4 separate regions of the Homo sapiens genome follow, and all the other regions are linked to region 3. The links come from fine-mapping of genetic effects on gene expression. A gene starts in region 3. Each other region holds a variant in brackets. All regions are shown on one strand. Distances are from middle to middle.

Region 1 (4,000 bases), 65 kb before region 3:
TTTATATACAGTATTTTTTTCCACCTCAGTCACAAACGTGAGACTACTGTGCTGTCAGACCTTATAATCTATACCATGCCGATATTATATCTAGACTCTGACATTAAATTTTCCTTGGTAAAAATTCTACTTTTCTGAACTTCCATTTGGCTGAAAAAACAATCAAAGTAGAAAAATTGGAAGAATTAAAGGAAAATGAATTTTCACAGGACACAGAGAGAAAAGTGTTACAGATGAAAAGATGTGTCTTTTACACTAAATATTAGAGAATTTAAGTAATTTTTTAAAACAAAAACATTTTGATTTGTGGACATTATCACAAATACTCGATAGTTCTGAATACCACATTCCAAGCTAAAAAGTAGGAAGAGTAATCTATAGAAACACAGTTGCAATTAGATAAGACAGTGTATTTCTACTAGATAACTTACATACAATATGCTGCATCACCAGCATATTGAGAAATAATGTGACTAAGGGTGAACCCAGGAGGCCCAAGTTACTCACCCTCACTTTACCACTATGGGAGACAGTGACCACAATAACCCATGCCTTGTAATAGATACTTTAACATGTTTGTTAAAGAGGAAAATAAAACTTAGAAGTTGGCTAGAATAATGGAACTGAGCTAACGTGTTCTAAAAAAATAACCCCAAAGTCTAAAGTATATAACACATCAGCCCTGCCCAATCAAATGTCTATTTTGGTTCAATCATTCAACAAATACTAATTAAGCACCCACTATGTGCCAAAGACTGTGAAAGACACTAGATATGCAGTGATGAACAAAAGACACAGTCCCTGCCCTCAGGAAGCTTATAGAAAAACCTCCCTCTCATTCCTTTCTCAGAACACATAGACCTTCTCTCTAACTAGCAAGGCAATTAAATAACAGTTACTATATTAGGAAGAACATGAGCTTTGGAATCAGATAGCTCTGGGTTCAAATCAGATAGCTATGCCTGGATGTGTCTGGAGAAACACCTCTATCTCTCTGATCTCCAGTCTCCCAGTATGAAAAAATGGTGATTATGTTATCTCACTGGGCTAAATGCAATACCACAACATATAGAAGAGAATAAATACTAGCTCTCTCTCCACATAGTCTTCTCTATAAATAAATATAAAAATTCCTGCTAGATAATCAAACTCCAGGAAACAGAAACATCAAAATTCTGCATGGAAGAGAAGTTTCTAAGCTTAGAAGAAATAAAGTGTACAAGAAAAGAATGATCTGACCACATTAAAACACTTACACAGTTTAAAAGCCAATAACAATCTGGAAAAAAGATATTCACATCAAATACAATGAAATTAATCTGTACTAAATAAGTCTACCAGAATTATTCAAACAACTGAACTGCTGAATCCACAGGAATTTTTATGATGAACATTCGTTTTTCAAATCCAGCATTGGGATTAGTTTTAAAGACCCTTTAAAAAATGTAACTTCGTGGATTAAACAAATAAATAAGTAAATTATAGAAAATAGCAAACATACACCAATGGCAATGAAACCAAAGAAAGAACACAATTTCATACCACAATCTTTAAAATATGGTGACCATAAAGCAGATGTTTCCAAGAATCTTCAGGGCTGGACTTGGTGCATTTTGTGAAGCTGCTAAGACCAAACTCCACATAAGGAGAAGGAGGGGTGAGGCTGTGAATAAACAAAATTCTGAAAATTTCATTAAAACTCTCAAACTTATAGGAAGACAAATCCAGGAAGGGGAGGGGAGATGTAGACAGCCCAGAGAAATGGAAATGCCCATAATACCATAAGTTCTACCTTTACCACATTCCTTCTGGTCAGAAAAGAAAAATACAGGTTTTATCATTTTGGTATTTTTTCTGCAAAAAGAAAAAAGCAGGAAAGGCCATAGACCATAAAAAATAGCAGCCAAGCTAAATAAATATCTCCAGCAATTATGATGAGTAGAAGAAGTGGAAGACAGGCGAGAGGAGGAATTGCCATGTGAAGCCTCACACACACCCACAGAGGACCAGAAGAAAAGTAGGGGGTGGCGAATGGAAACAGCTTCTAATGAAATACAAACAAGGGAAGCAACAAATGGCACTGACTCAAGGAAAACTGATGAATAGTAAGAGAGAAGATCCAAAATCTAAGAATATCTCTCAGCCTTCCAAGATAACAGGTTACAGACCAACCAGGTAGTGTGACAGTAATTCAAGATGCTTAGCAAAATCACAAAAGAGAGGGTTGAAGCCAAATCCTACAGTAAGGCTGCTACAGACAACCCTTCTTCCTCCCCATGTCTTCTCCACTGCCCCTAGATAGGTGATAAGCAGACACACTGC[A/G]TGATATCCAACCGTCAAAACAGTACGTCAGGAAGGAAAACAAACTCCTCTCTGATTGGGTAGGAAAGAAGGCAAGAAAAATTCACCAGCACCATAAAAAAGCAAACAGGCCCAAACAGAGTGGGCCAAGCTAAGCTTGATTGCTCAAGCAAGGTAAAGAGGCTGGCCTGGCAAACCCACAAACATACTACAAAAAAAAAAAAAAAAAAAGGCAGAGAGAGGGACAGGGGAAGACAATATGCGAAAGACAGATGAAGAAAAACAGAACCAAGAATCAGAACAAAGGTCTCTAAAAACATTTCACACTACTGAGCAATTTAATAAGAATATGAATTAAACAAAACAAACACACAGTGACAAAGTGATATGGGAGGCTAAATAACTAAAACAACAAAAAAAAGAACCCAAATAAAACCCTAACAGACAGATATATAGATATATATAGGAGATACCACATTATAATTGAGGGGCAGTTTGTTAACAAGTGAAAAATGGTTATGGTATCATTTACCAAATCTCCAACAACCAGTGGGTCATGTGACCACTGGGTCACAGCAGCCCAAATCCACATAATATGGATAGGATGTAAAAGGGATAGATCTAAAATGACTGTAAGAGACTACTTGCTATGGTCTGAACGTCATCCAAAATTCCTGTGTTGAAAATTAATTCCCATTGTAGTGGTATTAAGAGGTGTGGCCTTTTGGGAAGTGATTAAGTAATGAGAGCTTCACCCTCACGAATGGATTAGTGCCTTGTGAAAGAATGGAGGGAAGTAGCTTAGGCCCTTTGCTCTTCTGCTCCTCTGTTCTTCTGCCATGTGAGGACACCAAGGTGGTGCCATCTATGAGGAACAGGCCCTAGCTGCACACTGAACCTGCTGGCACCTTGATTTTGGACTTCCCAGCCTCCAGACCTGTGAGAAATAAATGTCTGTTCTTTATAAATTACCCAGTCTCAGGTGTTTTGGTATAGCAACACAAATGGACTAGGACACTACTACGTGTCAGGAAATCTCAGGTTTAATGTAACGAAAGTCATTTAAGAGCATTATTCCAAGTATATAGACTGAAAAAGTAACCTGAAAAGCAAGTTAGAAAGAATAAGCAGAAGCTTATGTGCAGTTCAAGAGGTCTTTCCCCAAATATAAAATGTGCACAGTTTTTATATTATTCTATATATTTTTGCCATCTTAAAGGAAAGACAAGTTTTGATTTCAAGTGCACGAATTGCAGGTGAAATGTATCATCACTAAATATTTAGGAATATCTTATAATATGCCACTTTTCCTATTTGCAGCTTGACCCAAATCACGCAGATTTTTTTCTGTCTTCTAGTAAATTCATATATTTTAATACAAAATAAACACCAATATTGAATAAATTACTCAACTGACTTCAAGATATATGCATATAAAGTAAAGGCTTTTCCATTTAACATTTATTGTCATAACTTGCTTGCATTCCATTATACAGCACCAGACTTGACATGATAAACATGCTTTTCACTGGTTGGGCCCTTTAGGTGGTAAGATGACTAAATTCCAGAAACTGTAAAATTACTCTAAAATTACTCTGGGTTAGCTCAAGTTGAAACATTCTGGATTATATTCTACTGTCCACATATATGTTTTCAGTGGTTGCGTTTGGGAGGTGGTGCTTAATCATTTACTTTTTTT
Region 2 (5,775 bases), 530 kb before region 3:
CTAAATTAGTACAACCACTTATGCAAAACAGTATGGAGATTCTCAAAAAGTTAAAAATAGAACTACCATCATATGATCCAGAAACCCCACTACTGGGTATGTATCCAAAGAAAATGAAATCAGTACTTCAAAGAGATATCTGCACTCCCATGTTCATAGAAGCATTATTCACAATAACCAAGATATGGAAACAACCTAAGTGTCGATCAGTGGATGACAGATAAGGAAATTGTGGTACATATACACAATGGAATATTATTCAGCCATAAAAATGAAGGAAATCCCGCCATTTGTTACAACATGGGTGAACCTAGAGGACATTATGCTAAGTGAAATAAGCCAGACACAGAAAGACAAATACTGCATTATCTCACATGTGGAATCTAAAAAACTCAAACTCATAGAAGGAGGGTAAAATGGTGGTTACTAAAGGCTGGGGATGAGGGAAATGGGGAGACGCTGATCAAACTGTACAAACCTTCAGTTATAAGATGAATAAGTTCTGGGATCTAATGTACATCATGGGTGGTGAAGAATGTTTTAATTATTCTGATAGTGATAATCATTATACATTATATACTTAAATAAAATCATTGCATTGTATACCTTGAATATATTCAGTTCTTATTCATCAATTAAATATTTCAAAATTTTAAAAAGTCTGAGATGTTCATTATCTAGAAACGAAACGTTCAATGAGATGAGCTCACTTGCCCAAGCCCTGGTTTCCAGCAGGTGACAAAACCAAGATTCTAACTTGGTTGACCCTATAGCCCAGGCTTTTCTTGTAATTCCTTGCCACAGCTCCACAGTTAGAGATCTTGACTTCTACTCTAGGTCTTGTAAGTCCTCCTTTAGTCACAGAAACTCATACTGGACCCTCCACCCTGCCCAGAGCATGATGGAAAGATGACAGACCCACACACCAGCGCCATATGGGCTTTTAAAATTAGAATCAAAGGGGAGCAACATGCTCCAGGATAGACAATCACATTCCTGTTTAAAGAAACCAGACGGGAGATGACTACAGACTAGCAAGTTGAGGGGGATCCTTGGAAGGTGTGTCATATGCTGTAGAAAACTTCCCAAGCCCTTCCTGATTTTAAGGCATTTGGCTACTGACACTGGTTCGAATTTACTAAGTACAAAAATTTTAAAAATTAAAAAAATATAAAGCACTTGGCAAGCAACTTAGAACTTTCACTTCCTTAGTTTCCAGCCGAAACTTTGGCGTCACTGTGGTGGAGCTAAGTGGCCCTGGGTGGAGCGTCACTCAAAGGGTTCGCTTTGGAAGGGCAGTGGGAGAATGAGCAAGTTGAAAGAGAGGGGGTGTCTTGAAGCACATTTGTAGAGCAAGCACAATTTCATTTATTATGCACAACTGTATGCAAAACTATCTCAATTGTATAATTACTTATTAGATTAATTTTAGTGGGTGTTTTGGTGCTGGTGATAGGAGCTAGGGAAGCCCTTGAAGCCACCGCTTAGCAATGCCCCCCCTCATTCAAGGCATATGACCTTCCTGAGCCTCCATTCCTAACCTATAAAATGGAGATAAAAACACCCACTTCATAGAATTTTGTGAGGACTGAGTGAGTCTGCATATCCAGGGCTAATACACAGTAGATGCTCAATTAATAGTGGTTACTTATTAACCCTAAATTGAGTTAAAACTACTTATGGCTCCTCTTTCTCCTTCATGAAGCTGTTATTAAAATGTTTTCTCTAATACATATGAAAATGCCCGGACTATCAAACCCTGGTTTGGAGGACAGTTTGTTCTTAACGTTGACTAAATATTATACAACATCAAGGACCAAAAAGGATTTGAGGTGGCCCACAATAAGAAACACAATGTACGAAATTCATGAAGCCATTAAACGAGAGTGATGATAGAAAAGATTCCAGTAAAGGGGAGAGAGAGAAATGGTGCACAGCCTAGAGCAGCTCTTCTCTCCCTGCAGAAGCATCACTTGCCAACTTATTGGAATGCAGGTCCTGCCTCCCCAGGTCCCCGAGTGGAGCCCGAGATTCTGCCTTTCTCACCAGCTCCCCCCAACCCCACCCCCAGGAAGCAAATGCTGCTGGTTCACACTTTGTAGGGTGAAGGAAGTTAATGAAAGAGGACAAAGCTACTTTATAGTTCAAGTCAATCTTTCTGAACAAATGCAACATAGAATCTCATATGCAAATGCATTCTGATGACTTTTTTAATTAACAGAAAACTCCGGGGATGTTGGTGTGTGTCAAACAGTCCTCCCTGCTTGAACAAATGTTTTCTACTCCTCTGTCTCTCCCTTTTCCTCCAGGACCTTCTGGACCTGACACAGTGAGCAAGAAATCTGATGTGCCCAACAACCCTCTCTCTAAATGATTTCAAGGAAGAGGCAGCAAGCTGCACAGATACTGGAAATGCGTGATGTAACCTTTTACATTCAGAGAAAGGGCTGTCCCTAATTCAAGCCATATTTCACCCAATGAAGTAGACTTATTTAAAACTGGAAAACATCCAAAGAAGATATGAAATTCAATATATTTCAGTAGGTCGTGGCCTTTGCCTTCTTGTGGCCCCAATTACTTCCCTGTGCCCAGATGGGTCGTCCCTCTTTCCTCGTGCTGGATACTTCCTAATGCTCATTCCAACCTGAGCTCTCAAGTGAGGCATCTGCGGGTGAGAAATCTATAATGCACTTAAAGGTTGTTGAGAGCTTCCCAGGAGTCAGGCTATGTCCTAAAAGCTGTAATAGATTATCTCATTTAACCCACTGTGAGGACTCTACAGATGAGGGTGTTTATAAAGATGGAGTATATTATAAAGTCACACCTGTATTAGGTATCATCACAGGGATTCAAACTGCAGTCTATTTAGCCCAGGATTTCTCCACCTCAGCAAAATGTCAAGGGACATTGTGGCCCTGATAATTCTCTGTTACTGGGGGCAGAGGGGCTGTGCTGTGCATTGTGGGACATTTAGCAGCACCCCTGGTCTCTATTCACCAGATGTTATTAGCAACCCCTAATCCTAATTATGACAAACAAATATGTCTCCAGACATTGCCAAATATGCCCTGGGGGGATAAA[C/T]TGCCCCTGGTTGAGACCATCCCAACCCAAAGCCTGAGCCCCTAATAAACAAGGACAGGCATTAGTTTTCAACACTTCACAAGGGCCTATTGTAGGCTGAACTATGTCTCTCTAAAATTCGCATATTGAAGCCCTAAACCTCAGTGGCTCAGAATGGGAATGTTTATAGAGGTAGGATCTTTATGTAGGCTGAACTATGTCTCCCTAAAATTCACATATTGAAGCCCTAACCCTCAGTGGCTCAGAATGGGAATGTATACAGAGATAGACTCTTTAAAGAGGTGAGTTAAAATTAGTTCATTAGGGTGAGCTGTATTCCAACCTGACTGGTGTCCCTATAAGAAGAGGAAATTCAGACACACAAAGAGATACCAGGGTTGCATACACACAGAGGAAAGCCTACGTGAGGACACAGCGAGAAGACAGACAGCTGCAAGCTGAGGAAAGAGGCCTCAGAAGAAACCAGCTCTGCTGACACCTTGACATTGGGCTTCCAGCTTGCAGAACTGTGAGAAAAGTCCTGTCGTTGAAGCCACAAGTCTGTGATATTTTATTATGATCACCCTAGCAAACTAATACAAGTCCCCGAAAGCCACACTCAGCTTTCTGTCTTTACTTTTCCATTTTGTTTAGAATATATCTTGGAAGGTTTCCGAACCAATTCCAAGCCTAGCAAAAGAAAAGGTCAGTTCATGAGTTCTGTGGAGACATATCCCAAAATATAACCTGGCAATACTGTGCCTGATCCATATTTGTCTTGAAGATAACCACTGCTAGGAAAATATTCCTGAAATTCTTAGCAGGCCATAGCAAGTTGCTTTAGGACTTTCATGACTGGTTGTCAGTCATACCCTCACACTAACCCTGTTTGTGCCCTTGTCTTTATGTGTTTTTAGTGAGAATATACTTTCTAGAAACTAAACAGAATGGCAATATGATGTAATGCCAAGATAGCAAGGACAGTTTTGATGTCCCTCCCCAGTCTAGTTCATGGCAGACATTATAGAAAATGAGTCCCAGCTCACTTTCTCACTAAGACAAGAAGGCATCAGCATCCTTCTTAACACTAGGCTCCAGGCAAGACTACAAAATGATCAGAGGTGGCAGGAGAGGTGAATTCTTAAGCTATCTTAGGTGCAGTGCCATGTTCTGTACGCTGGCCGCACACTGGAATCATTTGAGGATTTTTTTTAAAATACCATGGAAAAGCAAAAATTGACAAATGGGATCTAATTAAAAGCTTCTGCACAGCAAAATAAACTATCATCAGAGTGAACAGAATGGGAGGAAATTCTTGCAATCTATCCATCTGACAAAGGTCTAATATCCAGAATCTACAAGGAACTTAAACCAATTTACAAAAAAAAAAAAAAAACCCCATTACAAAATAGGAAAAGGATGTGGATAGACATTTCTCAAAAGAAGACATTCATGCAGCCAACATACATATGAAAAAAAGCTCAACATCACTGATCGTTAGAGACATGCAAATCAAAACCACAATGAGATATCATCTCATGCCAATCAGAATGGCGATTATGAAAAAGTCAGAAAACCACAGATGCTGGCATCATGGAACAGAGGATTCCAGCCTGCCTGCAGGCTCAAACACACTACCTGTAGGGCTACACAAAAAGCTCTCAGGGTCTTGGGGCCTCAGTTTTCCCATTTGTAAAATGGCCATCATAACTCTTGCCTTTCCTATTTTATGGGATTGCTACGTTCAAACAGATAAAGCTGAAAACCACACAAAATATAGAGTGTGATCAATTTTAAAATCAAGCAATATTCTGCTGACATTAGCATCAGTGGTTCTCATCTCATCCCTGCACCAATCCACTGTGCAACCTCAGGTGAGTATTTTGCCTCTAGAGGCTTCAGTTTAGACTCACATAAAATGAGGAAGTGTCTAAAGCCACCTTCAGAACAAACATTACACGTTCCTGGCGGGAAAGTTTAATATGTTGTACGTTAATCATGGCTATTTCAGTTGAGATCTGATTTTCTCATTAAACATCATGGGTTTACATTCCTCCTCTTAACACCAAGATGACTTCAGGAATCAAATTTAAATTACGTTGTAGCCTGGAAGCTAATTTTGTTATTGGGATCAAGTACCTTAAATGTTCAATATTTGGCCCAGAAGTCCAATTCTTGGAATTCATTTTAAGAAAATAATCAAGATGTGGTCAAAGCATTAGGTACAAGGATGTTCATTACAGCATTATTTATAAATGTGGGGGGCAGGGAGTAAATATAACATCTAACAAGAGAAATGTTTCTATAAATTATGATACAGTCATAGGGTAGAATATTATATAGTCATGAAAAAATACCTGTATCAAAAAATATTTAATGACAGAGAAAGTATGATATATGTTAAATAAAACAAGAGATAAAGGACAGAAAACTTGATACAACACACACACACACACACACACACACACACAAACACACACACACACATCCCAGAAAATGATTAGAAGGAAATACATAGATCAAATTGTTAATCAGTGATACTAATTTTAATGATTTATAGGATGCTTTTATTTTCTTTATATTTTCTGCACTTTCTAAATTTTCTTCCATATGCACAACTGCTTTTATCAACAGAAGGGGAAAAGCATTATTTTAAAGAGCTACTGTGGATTCAGACATAATAAAGACAATACATTTGCGGAAACATATGGTGAA
Region 3 (5,775 bases):
TGTAGACTATAAAAGCAATAGCTCTATTCACACTAATTCTAAACACTACAAGTTCAAACTACAGGCAAGTATGTCATAAATTTGATTAAATTGTTAAAGGATGATTAGAAGACAATAATTTGAAGGTTGTAACAGGTGCAGTCCTATAAACAGGCATAACAGATTAGTTTCTAATGCCTTATTAGAATAATAAATGGGAGATAATCTCCTTATCCCCTAAACTCCAGAAATTCTCTTCTATACTCTTCACTTGACACTTTTTTGTTTTGAATACTTTTTTTTCTACAACAAGTTTACTCAGATTTAGGTTTCATTTAAGAGGTGGCTGACCTTTTTTTGCTGACCTTCTGAATTTAATTTGCTATTGTTCTTTTTTTAATATTTTAAAAAGTTTTAATAATTTTTATTTTTTCTGCCATGCTCGGCAAAGACGAGGTCTCACTATGTTGCCCAGGCTGGTCTTGAACACCTCATTGACCTAGTCCTACAATATGATCAGCTGTGAAAACAATAACCCCAAAGAATGCTGTGGAAAAAACATACAGGTTTGAAGGTCAGTTCTGGAAACAGACCTTGCAGCTGTTGTTCATTTTCAGAGCTTTGCTTTCTCCAGGTTATGCCAGTGTCACACCAAATTTAAGAAAGTAGAAATCAGGTCTTCCAGTCAAAGAAAGATGACAAATGCATGTAGTGTTCAAAAGAAGTATACTGCTTTTGAAGGCAATAATACAAGGGCTCACTGTTGGAATTTTCAACAAAAGACTCAAAGGGCAAAATAACACAAAATTTGGAGTAGGACAGCTCTGGGTGCACTTTCTGACCACGTTACACTACATGATCTTAAACAAGTCCCTTATCCTCTAGTATCTCAATTGTTCTAGGGTGGAGGAGGATAAAATGGCTCAACCCATAGCAAGTACTCAATAGATGTCAGTAATAACCCAACAGTAGAAACAGTGCTAGTAGGAGAGACAGTGGTAGTAGTGGTAGTTGAAAGAGACGGTGGTAGTGTGTTCTGTGCAAGACACAATTACGAATGCCAAACTCACCCTCTGGACCGAAATTTTAAATGGGACTCACAAAGACTGATAGTAATCACTAATGGAAATGTTATTAACCAGCAGGGATGTTTTATAATAATTTCATGTATTTTAATAATTTTCAAAAATATTTCAAAGTATTCTAAAGCGTAAGACTTACTACATCCCTCAAAAGGTGTAAAAGTTTTAAAATTACTATATATACTATTGCTGTTGGATTTTTTCCCTTCAGTGAGCATTTCTATCAAGAAGTTGTACCATAAATATAAGTGTATAGTTGTAATTTAACCACGACAATTACACACAAGGAAAAATCCCTTAAACTCTGACAAATAACTTGTAACTTATTTTCAAAATAAAGTTTTTTAAAATTCTTCTTTAAAAACTTCTGGGTTTTCTAGTTTTTTTTTTAATTCTTCCGTATATTCATGAAAAAAATCTCAGTAATTGTTTTCTTTATAAAATGCTAATAAGTTAGAAAATCTTTCTCTGAATGCTGGCCAACTTAAGACCCATAGCTTATCCTGCAGCATCTTTCAAGTTGTTTATCAATGAGGACATGTAAGATGTGTATACCTGTAAGATACGGTTTCATTTTTAAAGTAAAAGTGAGATACCCAAAAAAATACATTTCTCCAGGAAATTGAAGTCAAAGGCAGGATTTGACTGGCAGGAGGTGCTGATAAAATCAGCGCAGCTCATCTAAACTGTTGTGGTCTCCAAGTAACAAGAGGAGAAACAATAATCCTATTACTAGAAGGATTGGGGGTATTAGTACATGCATCCTACTTCAGTCGTAGGCTGGGAACTGCTTTGCCCATTTACTCACAGACCTGTTGAAGTGTCTCAGGAGGATGCTCATGCTCCAAGTGACATTCCTCAATGGAATCCTTAAAAATTCTCATCCCTTTTTTCTCAAAAGTACTCACAGAATCTCATACACTTTGTGCTCCTAGTGTTTGTTTATTTCAGTGCAAACATCTAAGAAATCAATCACCTTACAGACTCCAAACCATTATACTGCATTAGAGAATCTTGTTCACAAAATAAAACATGGAAAGGGTATTCATGTACCCGAAGTTTAACAACAGACATACCATCTTACCTGATGCCACGTCAGATGAGCTCTGCCCCACCTTTCTGCGAACCCTCGTTCGGCAAATTTTGCTTTATGAACGCCTGACAAGGTCCCAGTGATGGAGCAGAGGGAGCAAGAACGGACGGTGCAGAGAAAAGCAACCTTTAGCTTCACTATTCCCTCTCGTCCTCCAGCTGAAAGTTGTTCCACGTCCCGGGCAAAGAGAGAGCCCCACCAGGCAGCACCACCAGCTCCACAGAGTTGGAGTGATTCCCCCAAGAAGCTCCCCTGCGCCCCCCGTCACCCCCAGAGACCAGCAGAGGAAACGGCATCTATCCCTTGGAAGACACTAGGCAGGCGAGAACAAATGCAAGTCCTGCTGCTCACACCGAGGAGGAAAGGATGGAGGAGGCGGTGAATGGGATGTAGCAGAAACCCGACGGCCGCAGCGGAAGGGACACCTCCCCTCTCCAGCCTAACTCTGAGCCATCTTCGCCCTGTTGTCATAGCACTTACAACGGACGCCACTGCGCAGGTCACGCCGTGCCGCGCCGACTTCTGGGGGCTGGAGTCCAGAGAGGCTGAGGCGCAAAGGCGGGGACCGACTTCTGAGAGGGCCGCGGTTGGAATTAGATTGCTACTGGGGCGGGGCTCGAGTGAACCACGGCCTGGTCCTCATTAGCAGAGAGTGATAATTACTGCAATCCTCTGCCCTGTCCTGGCAGCAGTTCCTTAAGGAAGACCCTCCTCCTGCCTGGGCTCCGGGGGCAGGCCACGCCCCCCCGGCCGCGTGACCGCCCTCTCCCCTCGGTGCGTGTGGGTGGGGCCTAGTGGGGGCGGGGCGTCACTGGCTTGTCCATGGTGCTCTGGGATCCTGCGCTTCTGAGAGTCCCAATCGCGGTGTTTTTTTCCTGCCGGGACACTCATGAGGGCCCCGTCCATGCACCGCGCGACCGTGGCGAGGGTGGTCGCGGTAGCGAGCGCCAGCGTGTGCGCCCTGGTGGCGGGGGTGGTGCTGGCCCAGTACATATTCACCTTGGAGAAGAAGGCGAGGCGGAAGACCAAGATCATCGAGATGATGAAGCTTTTGAACAGTTTCCAGTTTTTCCTTTTTTTACTATTTGAAACAGCGCTGCTTTGAAGTTACTTGTGCCTGCGTCCTGATACACATGTGTTAAATATATTTTCCGTATATACCTTAGAGTGCATTTCCTGGTATATGGGATTGGATCTATGTCTTCTTTTGTTTTTTACTTATTTTTTTTTAATCTTTACATTCAAATTCAATGTAGCCAACCTTGAAGTTTTTCTTGTTTGCTTTTTTCAATGGATTCTAGTGTAGGCTTTAAATTTCCAGTATTTCACCATCAATCCACAAATCCACATTCCCAGTAGAAAATACCATTCTAGTTTTAGTTTTTTGGGTTTTGGGTTTTTTTTTTTTTTTTAACTGAGACTGGGTCTCCCTGACAGGGTCGCCTAGACTGGAGTGCAGTGACAGGATCACTGCTCACTGAAGCACTGAAGCCTCAGCCTCCCGGGCTCAAACGATTCTCCCACCTTAGCCTTCCTAGTAAGCTGGGACTACAGGCACAGACCACCACACCTGGCTAATTTTTGTATTTTTTGTAGAGATGGAGTTTCGCCATGTCCAGGTTGCTCTCGAACTCCTGGGTTCAAACGATCCACCCACCTCAGTCCCCCAAAGTGCTGGGATTGCTGGCGTGAGCCACCGCGTCCGGCCTCAATATTTTTAAAAATGACCTTTCAGTCAAAGCCTTGGTAATATAACCAGTTTCCAATTGTATTCTGCTATACAGAGAGAGCAGATTTTTATTAGACTTATTGAAATGACCATATTACCATAAGAAGACTCACAAATGGTTTTCTAATTATGGAGGAATCAAGTAAAGAGAAAAAAAGTTTTTATCTTTTTTTACACAAGTATACTCTATCAAATTGCTGTAAATTATAAATAGCTTAAAAGACAAGATTTTCTTAAATCTGGAAAAAACTATTTGAGTAAAGAACCAACAACATTTGAAATAATATCATAAAAACATTGTCTTCATTAGTTAAACTCACGTAATTAATTCTTGTTCTGCCTGATCTTGATTAATAGTTTCATGAACCCACTTTTTTATTACAGTTCTGGAAATTGTTATATTGTCCATTGATCTTCAAGTTGTTAGAAACCCAAATCTAAGAGTATATTTTAGGGCCAGGCACAATGGTTCATGCCGGTAATCCCAGCAATTTGGGAGGCCAAGGCGGGAGGATCATTTGAGGCCAGGAGTTGGAGAAAAGCCTGGCCAATATAGTGAAACCCCATCTCTACTAAAAATACAAAAAATTAACCCAGCGTGGTAGCGCATGCCTGTAATCCCAGCTACTCAGGAGGCTGAGGCATGAGAATCACTGGAACCAGGGAGGCAGAGGTTGCAATGAACCAGGATCGTGCCACTGCACCCCAGCCTGGGCATCAGAGCAAGATTGTCTCAAAAATAAATAAATAAAAATAAAAGAGTACTTGTTAGAATATTTTCCAGGAGTCTGTTTTTTAAAAAAGAATTCAAAACAATAATATGGATGACAAAAACTTAAAATAGCCATGGTTAAAAATCTGATGAAGTTAACAACTGAGAAGAACATTTATTTATTGCTATTATATACAGTATTTTAAGATAACCAGAATTATGACTGGTAATATAATACATTTGTACGAATTTTTTTTAAAGATGGGGTCTTGCTCTATTGCCCAGGCTAGAGTGCAGTGGCACATTCATAGCTGACTGCAATCTCAAACTCCTGGACTCAAGCAATCCTTCTGCCTCAGCCTCTCAAGTAGCTGGGACTACACGTTTGTACCACCATGCTTGGTTTTTTTTTGGTTTTTTTTGTTTTTGTTTTGTTTTGTTTTGTTTTAATAGAGACAGGGTCTTGTTTTGTTGCCCAAGCTGGACACAAATTCCTGGCTATAAGTAATCCTCTGACCTCAGCCTCCCAAAGTGTTGGGATTATAGGCATGAGCCATCATTCCCAGCATACTTGTATGGACTTATATAATTTTTCAAACATTCATATAAACAATATTCCCATAAATGCAAATAAAAGAAAAATCTAGTATCAGTTATCGTTTGACAATATTTCTTATAAAATTTACCAAATAACCCAAATCATTTAATACCTCTAAAAGATGAGAAAGATATGTTTTAATGCTTTCCAGGAGTCCAACTGGAAAATTCCAAAGTTAATTCTACATTTAAAAAACTTAAATTGGAATTTGATTTTGAGGAAGTTTTTAAAGGGCTCAAAACACTGTATCAATACAGAATCACAAGTTACTTGTGAAATAAGTCATTTATATAACCAGAGTGATAATCAAAAGGCTTAAAAAGCCATACAAATAATTACATTAAAACTATCTTAACCATTTTAAACTTCAGGTTAAAAAAAAATCAAATCTAATAAAAGCAACACAGGAAATTATGTTGATAAAATGTATAATCTTCCTTAGGCCAGGTACCAAAAAAGTAAAGAAAAACTTTCTGCAATGTGATTGTTTCTCCTTTTGGGGAGCTCATTTAGATAACCTGGAGGTCGAATCTGATGAAAAGGGTACTTGAATTTAATCAGATACAGGAAGATGTGTCCCAG
Region 4 (5,775 bases), 580 kb before region 3:
TGGAAAAGTTAGCAAAAGATATGATGATATGGTTCAGAAATAAATTACATATGGCTCAGGAACATATGAACAGATGTTTATCTCACTTATAAGAGAAATTCATATTAAAACAAAACTGAGAGACCATTTTTAAAATACATATTGGTAAAAATGTTAAAGTGTGATTACGTGCTTCTGTGGAGTGGCTAGGGGAAACAGGTAGCCTCATATATTGCAAGTGGAAGTAAAACTTCATGCAATACCCAAGGAGGGAAATTTGAGACTCTCCATCAAAAAGGAAAATGCTTTGACCAAGACATTCCACCTGCAGAAACATCAGCTACATTTCTGGGCCAGCTGGGACTGACAGCCAAGTACAGCCTCTGACACCATCTCTGCTTACAGCAAGTCCCATAAACTCTTACCGGATGGGGACAGTTTTCACACAATAGAAGACAGAAGCCACAACACACCCAACAAAATCACACTTGCTGATGTTGGCCAGAACATTTCTCACAGCTGTTTCTCTTTCCTGGGTTTGACAACGAGGGATCTTGTGCACTGAACAGACCCAGCCATATGATCTCAGCAACACAACACCTCTCAGCCTTCAAGCACTGAAAAACCACAAATGAGAAGTGTACTCCCACCACTAATTGCTTTAAGATGTGATATGAATTAAAGCTGCCTTCCCTCCCCTTTTTAATTCAGGCCACTCTATTAATTTTGCTACCCAAGGGTGATTACTCTAGTTGTCCTAAACTTTGCTGACAACCCGCCCTTCCCATGAAATATATACTGCATTTCTAGAGAAGCCCTTTGGTTAAAGATACCCTCCTTCTTTGTGATACTTTGCTCACCTTTCCCTAACTCTGTATTCTGAGTAGCAACATGAAACGTGACAAACATTCCTCACCAAAAATGATCATGATCCTAATATAACATATTCCATTTCTATCTCATTCCTCATTTACCTTTACCAAGGCAGCATTCAAAGGGTTAACTCCTTTCCCCCAACAGAGTGAAGCATTTTTGCTGACCCAGTGTGAGATGGGTTGGACCAAATTCAATTTAGCTGCAGTCAACAGGAAAGTAGGAAGAAAAATAGGATCTAACAAACCAAGCATTAAAAAAAGAGGGAGTCCACAGCAGGAAATAATTATTTGGGCAATTGTTCACTTTGTTAAAGGACCAGCCCGTATGAATATCCATCAGGATGCAGTGCTGTGTCCGTGGTTTCTCCGCAGCACCCTGTCTGGTCTAATTAGTTACAAAAGCAGTTCTATGGGCTGGAGAAATGTGCAATTGTGTTGTGTTTCAGGGGAACAAACACATATGTCATTGAAGTGGAGTCTGGCACCAGCTTATTTTGGTGAAACCTCGAGTGGTCGGCCAGAATGGAATCAATACGAAAGGAAGCTCTGAATGCCAACAGAAGTGGTTTACAAAAATAATTCACTGACCATTCCATCTGCCTCGGATTAAGCGTGTTAAACGGTTCAGTTCAAGTTAACATTTCTAATATATAGATATACATAAAATAAACAAAACCACATACTTTTATCAAATATTTGCATTTGAAAACCTCCACTAACATACACACACCCAGAACTCAGCCTGTGCTCTTTCATCTGACCGTATACTTTTCCCCTCAGAACATTTACACTAAAAACATGGAATCTGAAAGAAAACTCAGATTGGCCCACTAGAGAAGAGTAAACCCCCTGTGGAAAGGAAAGTGAAAATAATATTTTCAGAATAAAAATCTTTCAGTCTGTAAAAGGAGTTTTATAGCTCAGTCTTGGGAAAGTCAGCCAAAGGTTCACCTGACATGTGAACAGAGCAGGTCTTGGGGAATCAAGGCTTAGCAGATTTGTTCATTCACAGTCCTGACAATGGGTGCTGGAACCAAATCAATAACCTGTCGATATTGCAAAACTATCAGTTTGCATAGAAAGTCTACTATATGCATTTTTTAATTGCATAAATTAGAATCTAAGGAGACATGATGCCACAGATAAATAACAAATAAAAATGTCAACACATATTGAATACTTACTAAGTTAAATACTGCTCATGTAATCTCTGTAACCACACTGAGGCAGGCATTGTATTACTATCTCGATTTAGCAGATGTGAAAACTTAAGCACAGAGTGGTTGAGTAACTTGCCCAAGATCATACAGCCAGGAACTACAAGAGGCCTGGATTGGAACCTGGGCCATCCAACTCCGGATCATGCTCTATTCTACTCCCCAGTGTACACAAAATAGGCAAGAGAGGTGTCACACAGGAAGCCAGAGCAGTTTCCCACAGCAAGTCCTAGGAGCAGACAGGGTGAAATTAATCTACTCATTGGCAGGCCTTTGCCTCCCATTCACTCCCTTCACACAGTAGGCCATGAAACAAAGGGGCCCTGCATCCACTCAATCTGTACTGCAATCCTTTGTTCCCCACCTGCCTACCCTGGGGACTCTTGCCCCTTACCTGTGGAAGGAGGGTGAAATGGGATAGCTTTTCACAGCCCAGCAGGGAAAAACAAACAAACAAACAAAAAAACAAAGCCAGCTGCTTCCCTGGGAACAAATTCCTAGGCTTGGCTAAAGAATGGCTTTGCAGGCCATCAATGTCAAGTTCAAACTCTGCAAATGAGCATATCCTGCCAGATCAAGTAGCTCTAGAGATTCTGCTTCCCTGTAGGGTCCCACGACCTGTGCTCCAGCTTATCTGGTAAGGAAGCAGAGGTGGACCAGGAAGACAAAGGCAGAAGGACTCGGGAGCACATGCTCCTACACGCATTTGACGCAGCTTGTCTCGGTGAAGCCTCACAGGATCCTGTGTGGCTGATGAATTCAGAGTGTGTAAGTGGCTTGATGAAAGTCACACGCATAGTGAATGGCAAAGTGAGGATTCAAGCCGAGCTCTGACTCCTAGCCCTCACTTTGTTGGCTTGGTGATGCTTGGCAGCCCAGCCAGCAAACTCAAATGCGACTTGGTATGAGTTTTTCAATGGTGCCCTTACTCCATGCACTGCCAGCAAAATAGCACAAAAATGATAAAATCGGTGAGAGGATTGGCACCCCCAAAGAGGGCAGCCCTGATGCTGGAGGACAGGGGCTCAGGTCCCTGAGACTGGTCTAGTGAACCTCCGCTAATAGGGTCCTTGGCTTTAGTCTGC[G/A]AGCAGCATGTGAGCTCATGCGGCTCCTGGGTCAGGCTGAGCAAGACTGTGGAGTGTTTCCAGCACTCAAGGTGACGGGAAATGTTGAGCAAAGTAGGTGCAAAGCCTTGTCTAATATTTCCATTTACCTCCTTTGTCTGTCTGAATAAGTGTCATTAATTCAAACCATTTCAAAATGGGGCTTGAAGATGTGTGAGAGCGGAAGCCCCCAAGCCCCTGGCCTCTCCGCACCACATCCTTGCTGACTCTATCTCTTGTGTGCAGTGATCAATTGAACCCCAGCAAATGTGCTGTGAATATTGCAGCTAAACTGACCACTGATGTGCATGTGTCTGTGTGTGCACAGCGAGGGGAGGGGGACTAGAAGCAGCATCCTAAGCCGGCTCTTCTCCCATCCATTTCCCTGGCCTGACATCCCCCTACAATCAAGTTACCCCTCCTTCTCCAGCACCCCACCCCCCAGATAAAGCAAGACCGCACCAGGAACACTTCAAGGGAAGAAAAGACACTTCAAGGGGAAAAAAAGTGTTATTTTCTCTCTAGGAAATACCCCCAAATCAACTACTTCACTAACTTCTCACTGCTAATGCTTTTCTTATAGAGAGCAGAGTTCTCACTGAAATAACAGCTAGCTTCAATAATACTGTAAATTCTGCAGCCAGAAGGAAAACCCATCCTTTTCCAAATGCAAGAGAAAAGTCTGAAAGCTTAGCAATGTACAACTTTAATATTTTGGTTGATAACATGCCATGGACCCAGAGTATTTTCCATTTCCTCTTTGTCCTTTTTCCAGTGATCTTAAGGCCTTTATTAAATCTATCAAAACCTAAATATGAGTCGTGATGGTAAAAATTAGGTGACTTTTTTCCTAACAAATATGGTAGAAAAGTATATCCATCCAAATGAGTCTCATCCTCTTCAAAGTGGACTCCTATATGGGACTTAGGCTTATGTTAAGGAGGTCTCCACACACACACACACACACACACACACACACACACACACACACACACAGAGTTATCTATGTGTGTGGGAAATTCTTTTGCAGTTGCATTCAGCATAGGCACATCATTTTGAATACACTTCATGGTACCATACTATGATTTTTAGGAAAAACCCAAGATGTTCAGTGCCATGTCTGCTGTCTTTAAAAAATAATCAAGCTGAAGCATAGTATTTGAGGGTCAAAATGAGATTGCACTAGAGCAAAAAAAAGATTTTCTGATGTATCCTCAGAAGTCTTTTGTACTGGAGTCCATTATCCAAAACACATCAAAGCAGATTTAGGGCTGAGGAAGAGTGTGCCTGCCAGTTTAACCCCTCCGGTATTTAAACACTCCCCACCTTTCAGCAATTCCTGAGGCACCTCTGAGATCCCCTGCCTGCCCTCTGCATACAGCCCGGTATTCAAACATCTAAGCCAATTCTAAAAAAGCTGTTTGTAAACTGTAAAGCCCAGGATAAACATGAGTCTATTCTCCCCAGATCTGCTCTATTAGCCACAGGGTCTGTCATCTGTAGACATCTATGGCCACGACTAAAATAATGATTTCAAAACATTCATCTACTGCGGTTGACCCTAGCCCTGACCTCTAGCAACTTACTGTCCGCAAAGGGGTTCCGTGATCTCTCTAAAAATCACTACTGTAGTAGGCAGAATTCTAAAGATGTCCCCAAGATTTTTACCCACCAGTCATTCAATTCAACACAAATCTAGGTGATGCTATGAAGGGACTTTGCAGATGAATTAAGGTTACTGGTCAGCTGACTTTAAAATAGGGAGATTATCCTGAATCATCCAGTTGGACCCTACGCAATCACTTGGGTCCTGAGAAGCAGAAGAGGAAGGCAAAAGAGGGAACCAGAAGAAGGTGGTGGAAGAGGGAGGCAGGGGACAGATGAGCTAACGGGAGGTCAGAGAGATGTGAAACATGAGAAAGACTCAACCCATACTGTTGGCTTTGAAGAAAGAGGAAAAGGGCAATGACTCAAATAATGCAGGCAGCCTCTGGAAGCTGACAATGACCCTGATCAACAGCCGGGAATGAAGTGGGGACCTCAGTCCTACAACCACTTGAATGAAACTGGAAGCACATTTTCCACAAGGGCCCCTGCCTCCTTGTGCAGCCCTGCCCACACCTTGATTTTAGCTTGTGAGACCAATTCACACTTCTAACCCACACAACTGCAAGATAATAAATGGGTATTATTTTCAGCTGCTAAATTGGTAGTAACTCACTGTGGCAGCAATGGAAACCTAATACAGCTACCCACAATGTTTTCCTGACATCTGCAGTCTTCTAGAGAAACTAGATCACTCTTAGTATTAGAAGATATTGTTTCAGTCCAGTTCATTTGGCAAACATATGGGGCACCCACACGCTGGGCAGAAGCCAGGCGAGAGGACACATCACAGGTCATAATAGAGAAGACATTGCCAGGGGCTAGATGGGCTACAGCCTGATATTTGGAAACAGCCAGGGGGAAAATGAAATGATGTGAGTCTAGTCTTGGTGCTTAACACTGACTGCTCATTGGATTCACTTGGGGAGTTTTTAAAAATCCCCATTCCAGCTCATACCTCAGACCAATTACATCAAAACTTCAGGAAGATGAGCA

Alleles and levels. Positions count from the first base shown, and alleles are read on the strand shown. Sizes are in standard deviations (SD) of each study's normalised expression. Not every link is listed here.
As copies of G replace A in region 4, the expression in subcutaneous fat of the gene that starts at base 2,623 in region 3 goes up (moderate effect, 0.64 SD a copy in FUSION).

Evidence for each region. PIP is the estimated chance that this variant, and not a neighbour inherited with it, causes the effect. A credible set is the group of variants that fine-mapping cannot tell apart.
Region 1: its variant is the best candidate, but not a certain one, in a credible set for the expression of BBS9 in whole blood (INTERVAL, PIP 0.81).
Region 2: its variant is the best candidate, but not a certain one, in a credible set for the expression of BBS9 in testis (GTEx, PIP 0.80).
Region 4: its variant is the best candidate, but not a certain one, in a credible set for the expression of BBS9 in subcutaneous fat (FUSION, PIP 0.87).

Annotation. Positions count from the first base shown.
Region 1 is chr7:33,191,955-33,195,954 of GRCh38, reverse strand. All of the region lies in intron 5 of BBS9 (Bardet-Biedl syndrome 9), which reads right to left. Among named protein-coding and RNA genes, the nearest start is that of BBS9, 64 kb to the right of the region's middle. The variant A/G (reference allele first, on the strand shown) is at 2,323.
Region 2 is chr7:33,660,840-33,666,614 of GRCh38, reverse strand. No RefSeq gene overlaps it. Among named protein-coding and RNA genes, the nearest start is that of FLJ20712, 62 kb to the left of the region's middle. The variant C/T (reference allele first, on the strand shown) is at 3,082.
Region 3 is chr7:33,126,412-33,132,186 of GRCh38, reverse strand. It overlaps BBS9 (Bardet-Biedl syndrome 9), which reads right to left and starts at 2,623. Exons shown (of 23, transcript NM_198428.3): 1 at 2,146-2,623. RefSeq lists enhancers at 2,561-2,670, 3,161-3,210 and a silencer at 2,721-3,020.
Region 4 is chr7:33,702,373-33,708,147 of GRCh38, reverse strand. No RefSeq gene overlaps it. Among named protein-coding and RNA genes, the nearest start is that of FLJ20712, 21 kb to the left of the region's middle. RefSeq lists an enhancer at 2,048-2,916. The variant G/A (reference allele first, on the strand shown) is at 3,157.